2 separate regions of the Homo sapiens genome follow, and region 2 is linked to region 1. Evidence: fine-mapped expression QTL. A gene starts in region 1. The other region holds a variant in brackets. All regions are shown on one strand. Distances are between the middles of the regions. Region 1 holds the start of HPS4 (HPS4 biogenesis of lysosomal organelles complex 3 subunit 2). Region 2 has its middle 36 kb from the start of LINC01638.

The links.
Region 2: its variant is fine-mapped to the expression of HPS4 in caudate (GTEx, PIP above 0.99).

What each region holds. Positions count from the first base shown.
Region 1 is chr22:26,482,257-26,485,166 of GRCh38, forward strand. HPS4 (HPS4 biogenesis of lysosomal organelles complex 3 subunit 2) reads right to left here and starts at 1,527. Exons shown (of 14, transcript NM_022081.6): 1 at 1,418-1,527. SRRD (SRR1 domain containing) reads left to right here and starts at 1,621. Exons shown (of 7, transcript NM_001013694.3): 1 at 1,621-1,843. The coding sequence starts at 1,635. RefSeq lists an enhancer at 1,575-1,694 and a silencer at 1,715-1,804.
Region 2 is chr22:27,259,078-27,261,987 of GRCh38, forward strand. No RefSeq gene overlaps it. Among named protein-coding and RNA genes, the nearest start is that of LINC01638, 36 kb to the left of the region's middle. RefSeq lists enhancers at 1-392, 393-893. The variant T/C (reference allele first, on the strand shown) is at 1,586.

The sequences.
Region 1 (2,910 bases):
GAATAGATATTTCAGCAACTCGTGAGAGAGCATGTGACCCAGCAGGATTAAACGAATGGTATATTTCAAAAGAGCTTTCTGTGAGGGTGACAATCATGCTTCAAAATCAAAGAGGGAGGCTTGCAGAGACTTCAGAGTAAGGGCTTTAGTTTCTCGAACAGTTAAGGGAAACACACCACAAGCTTCACGGAAGATAAAATCAAATGACAGGGTGAAAATGCTCTAGGTGTGGACAGCTATACAAATAAACCAGTTGCTGTGGTAATAATGGAACCCAAATTAAGGAACTGTCATCTTGACAGTCCAAAAGTAACCTGAACATGCAGAATTCCAGAGCAGGGCAAATTTCTAAAAAATGAAGAGAACTTTATCAAATGGCTTTCAAACTTCCACAAGAGAAAGACAGCTCAGTGTATCACGGAATTTCAGAGTCGGAAGGAACCCTGGCATCGTTTACTCTACTCTCCTGCACTCTTTTCCAAAAATTACCTTGGCTGTCTCTGCTTTACACCCTCCAGAGATGCGTGGTTCACTATGTTACATTTCTCCTTCCAACAAACTAAAATCTGCGTTCCAGATTTTACATCTGCCTCCCACTCGCTAGTCTGGATAACGCTCTGCAGGAAAACACAAAACAAGGTCTAATTCTTCCATGTGACAACCTCTTGGTCACTTCAAAACTATTGTCTAATTCTTACTGTCACTTTCTCCAAGCTTAATGCTTTAGCAACATGGTCTCAAATGTTTGCTCACCATTCTGCAATCTGTGGGTACACAATACAGTTTGTTAAAAGTCTCTAGAGACGACCCCCATTGAATATTTGACGGCCTGTAAAATCTCTATCTCTTCTCAGCTCTAGATATTTTGGATTGGGCCTCCACAGGACCACACTCATTGTATTCTATGGAGCATATTTGGGTGCCTGTGGAGGGGGTATCTCTGTTACTGGAACCAAGGACAGCAGCCTAAAACTCCCCATCCCTTGTTCCCAGAGGACTGGGCCCTACACTACCGAGGTCCTCTCTTATCTCTGAAAGGTCCAGAAGAGACCAATAATGGCCCTGGAGTAGGAAGAGACGTCGGAACATGAGCAGAAAAGGATCTGGTAGCCTGGGAAGTAATAGTAACAACGCGGGGCTGGGGCTGGTGATACTGCTGTGGGAAGGGGCCTCAGTGGGGCAGCAGGGCTGGAAAACGGACGCTAATGGCTGGAAAAGGGCCAGGAAGCTGCTGGGCGCAGCCCCCGGGGCGCAGGCAGCGACTGGTAACAGCACTAGGGCTGTGCGGTGTCTGGCCCCAGCTCTACGGGACTGGGAAATGGTGGGCGAACGCCTAAGGATTAGGCGGGGTCGGGTCACGCTCTAAGCTGGGGGCCCGCCCCTCGGTATCCCCGCGCTCCGAGCGCCGCCCACCCACCGGAGTAGCCAGGCATCCCAGTGCTCGGGGTTCGGGACTCTGGACCAGAAATGTGGGCAGCAGCTGGGTACCTGCGACTTCTGCCCCGTACCTGCGCGCGCGGCAGAGAGGCCTTAGGTCACGCGCCGCCCCGCCTACCTCCCCCTCCAGCTCCTGGCAAGCCGGCGCGCGGCGATGACGTGCCGAGTGCGCCGCACGCCGCTGACGTCAGAGACCAATGGCTGCGGCCGCAGCTGCGGCGCTGGAATCCTGGCAGGCGGCGGCTCCGCGGAAGAGGCGCTCCGCGGCTCGACGGCCGCGGCGGAGGGAGGCGGCGCCCCGGGGGAGAGAGGCGGCGCCCCGGGGGAGAGAGGCGGCGCCCCGGGGCCCCGAGGCGGAGTTCGAGTCTGACAGCGGAGTCGTGCTTCGTCGCATCTGGGAGGCTGAGTGAGTGCAGGCTCGGCCCTGATGGAATCTTTGCGCCCATGGGCAATTCTGAGCCACAGTCTCCCCATCTGTAGAGTGGAGATATAATGCACACCCTTTAAGGAGTTATTGTGAAGAGTTAACGTAGGTAACGAGCTCATTAAAGATGTGGATTATAGTAAGCGCTCAGTTAAAGGTCGTCTTTCCTTTTATTACGGTTACAGCTGCGTGACCTTGGACAATTTATAATCTCTGTGCCTCAGTTTTCTCATCTGTGAGATGGGGATGAAAATAGTACATACGTAGGTTTGTTTTGAGGATTCAATGAATTAGTAAACGGAAACCATTTTCTGGCACGTGGTAAGCACTGTGCCAGTGTTTGCTATTAATATTATGCCGATGTTGATATTATTGGTGGTGGTGACACGAGGGAAGCAACATGAACACGTGACTGCTATCATCAGGCAGCTGCTATGTGCCTGACATTAGCTTAATCATTCTACACACTTTATGTTAAACATTGCAGGCATACTAGGACCCTGGTAGCTCACTGATTCTCAAAGAGACAAAGAAAATGTGTGGAACCAGATTTCAAACCCAGGTCTTTGTGACAAAAACCAGTGCTTCCAGCTTTCCATTATGCTTGTTGCTTATCCCAGCCCAGATTCTCACATACCTTGCTCTGTACCTTAGAAAGTACATAGAGAGTGCCTAATACAGAGGAAACACTCAATAAATGTTACTTATTATTGTTATTTAGTATTATTATCTTTATTCGCAGTTTTGTTTAGGCTCAATAAATAACAGCTTTAGTTAGCACTTAAGATCAGCATCCGAAGGGCCGTCACAAGGGGAGAAATTAGATTAATTTTGTGTGCTCCTCTCCCCTAGAATTAGGGTCAAGAGGCAGTAATGTCCCAGAGTTTACCTCTGAAGAGAAAGTTGCTGACCATTTGGCTCAGCCTGAATAAAAAGCACCTGCGATTATTTTTAAGCTCTCAGAGGATGCCAGTGAGAGTGAATGTGCCTAGGGGTTTGGAAAACTCAAGGCATTTTTCATATCCCTTGACACTGTCACGATCTCCTCA
Region 2 (2,910 bases), 780 kb after region 1:
CTGCCTCAGCATGAGCAGATGACATTCCGGAGGCCTCCCCAGCCTTCTCCCTTCTCTCTCTGTTGCTGCTTCTTCCTCTGCCTGCTGGTTTTTTTGTTTGTTTTTTGTTTTTTGTTTTTTTCCTTACCTTTTGTTTCCTCCTTGGCTTTGTTTCAGGCCCTATTTAGTTCCTTGTTAGCCTTTCTCTCTTCCTCTTCTTTGTTTTTCCTTTGCCTGTTTCCTCCTGCGCGTTCCTCCACCCCATGGGCTGGCATGCTTGTCTATTGGCTTTCCTGCCCTCTGATGCCTGCCTGCTTTGTTCTTTTCCCCACCCTGCCTTCCTCCTGCCTCAGCTTTCAATTTCGTCCTTCCCAGAGCCCCCTTTCCTCCTGCCCATCGCTCCCCCAGCCTGGAGGGCATCTGCAGCAGCCAGCAATGGCTTGAGGTGAGGACGGAATCAGAGGTGCCCGCCACCCACCCTCACTTCCTTGCACAGCCTCCCACCCCTCCATCTAAATCCTTGATTAATCCCTGTCCTCATTTGAAGGTCAGAGATTAGATACATATCATTTTCCTCTCCAGGGCTGGAGCTGCTGGTCCCCAGGAGAGCCAGTTCCGAGTTACCCCCCAGGCACAGACGGAGGAGCAGAGAACTCGGTGTGTAATGAGCCGGCTTCGAGGTCAAGGGGGTGTTTAATACAGATGCAGATTTCAAAAGAAAGTAGTGAGGAGCTTCTTGCTCCTCTCCTGTGCAGCCCTCCCACAACAATGAGTGAGGATGCTTTGGAAAAAGGACAGTTCATGTGGAGCAAAGTGGAAAGGCAGCTTGAGTCAGGCACTGGCCTGAACAAACCAAGCCCCTCCCTTCTCTGGGCCTCAGTTTCTCGCATTTATCTCTTGCAATTCTTTGGAGACTTCAATGGTAGTTGCAGGCAGGAGGTGATAGGACAGGGTGGAATATGTTTATTGAATCAAACACTATTTATTGAACACCTACTATATGCCAGGCAGTGGGTGGGCACTGGCTACAGCCCTGAACAAGAAAGGCAGCTGATATTAACAAGATCATGTCAGATTGTGACAAATTCCCACAGTGAGCCAGTGAACTAAGACTAGATGCACCCCTTTCTACTTCTCTTTTTGGCTCTTGCTGGTGGCCATGTCTTGGGCCCATTTTCTGAGCCACACTTCCAATGGCTACAGGCCCCTCCCCTCCAGAATGCCCAAGGGCCCTGCAGAGAATCATTGTTTTTTTTCTGACTCTCTGAGCATCTCCCAAGAGCTGGTTGGGCAGCATCTGCCAGGCAAACCACCACCCTCCCCCCACCCCCCCCCCACCAGATTAGCTGTTCAGGCCTGCGTTTTAGAGCCTGAGCAATTAAAGCAGAATTAATTGGCTGGTAGGCAATCACCTTCCAATTGGAGCAGGGAGGGAGTAGGCGGGCCTGTTTTGCTGAGTCGACAAACTGAACACAATGCTCATTGACCAGGGGCAGTGGGGAGGGGGTGGCAAGGCAAGCTGGTGGGAATTAGAGGCATCCCCCTCCCCTAGCCCCGAGCCAAATGCAACAGCAAGCCATGGGGATCTGAGCATCTCTGTGGGGAA[T/C]CCAGCTTCGCTGGTGCGGAACTTTCTGGAATAGAACTTTGACTTTGCAACTTCAAAACATCCAATCCAAGGTTGTTTTTCAATTTGAGTTAATTTTTAATATCTTTATTCTCTTCCCAATCACCAAAGCAATACATTTTCTATTGATTTTTAAAAATCAAATATTGAAAATATGTATGACTTTAAAAGCCTCATAAAATTATACATCTGCATATATATTAGCATTTGATAGGAGAAAAATCTGCAAGAATATACACGAAACTGTCGACAGAAGCTAGCCCTGGTGTGTGCATGGAGAGGGGAATTGAAAGAAGCTTGGCTGCACGCAATATATTTAAAGGAAAATTTAATGGGCACCAAGATATACAGTGGTGTTTGTTGTTTTTCTTGTTATTTTGGATGATGTCGGTTGGGCTTTATTTTGGTTTTTGTTTGTTTGTTTAGTATTATAAAAATCAAACATGTTCATGGTGGAAAAAAAATACAGAAATATGTAAAAGACCCCTGAACTCCAGCCTCCCATTTCCGCCCGTAAGTGGTAACCCAACTGTGAGAAGCTCCGGTAGGGAAGAGTGTGGCTCTTGGGCTGGAATTCAGGCTCTTCTGTTTGCTGGCTGTGTGACTGTCTCCAAGTCACTTGCCTACTTTGGGCCTCAGTTTCTTCATCTGTAAAATGGGGAGGAGACATAATACTTTCCTTCACCTCCTAGGAGAATTGTAGGTAGAGAACTTTGCACAATGCCTGGCACACAGTAAGTGCTTAACAAATGGCAGCCATTAATCTTAGTTACTGCCAACCCTTTCTAGCAAGGTGCCAGCACACAGGTTTTTAAAGGGATTGATTCGTGGCATCAAAACCACCTAGGATGCAAGGGCCACAAACGTCTGCCTCTGTCACTTCGTTGCACCCAAGTAGGATGCCCAAAATAAGGTAGTTTTACTCTCAGGATACCTAATTTCCCTGCAACTCAAGACACTCAGAAAGAGTTGTTGAAAAATAGTATACGGGCCGGGCATGGTGGCTCACGCCTGCAATCCCAGCACTTTGGGAGGCTGAGGCAGGATGATTGTTTGAGGCTAGGAGTTCAAGACCACGCTGGGTAACACAGTGAGACCCCCACCTCTACAAAAAATATTAGAAATTAGCCAGGCATGGTACCTGTAGTCCCAGCTACTCAGGAGGGTGACATGGGAGAATTGCTTGACCCTAAGAGATCTGGGTTACAGTGAACCACAATTGTGTCACTGCACTCCAGCTTGAATGAGAGAGCAAGATCCTATCTCTAAAAAGAAATAAAAATAATAAAATAAAATAAACTTTTTAA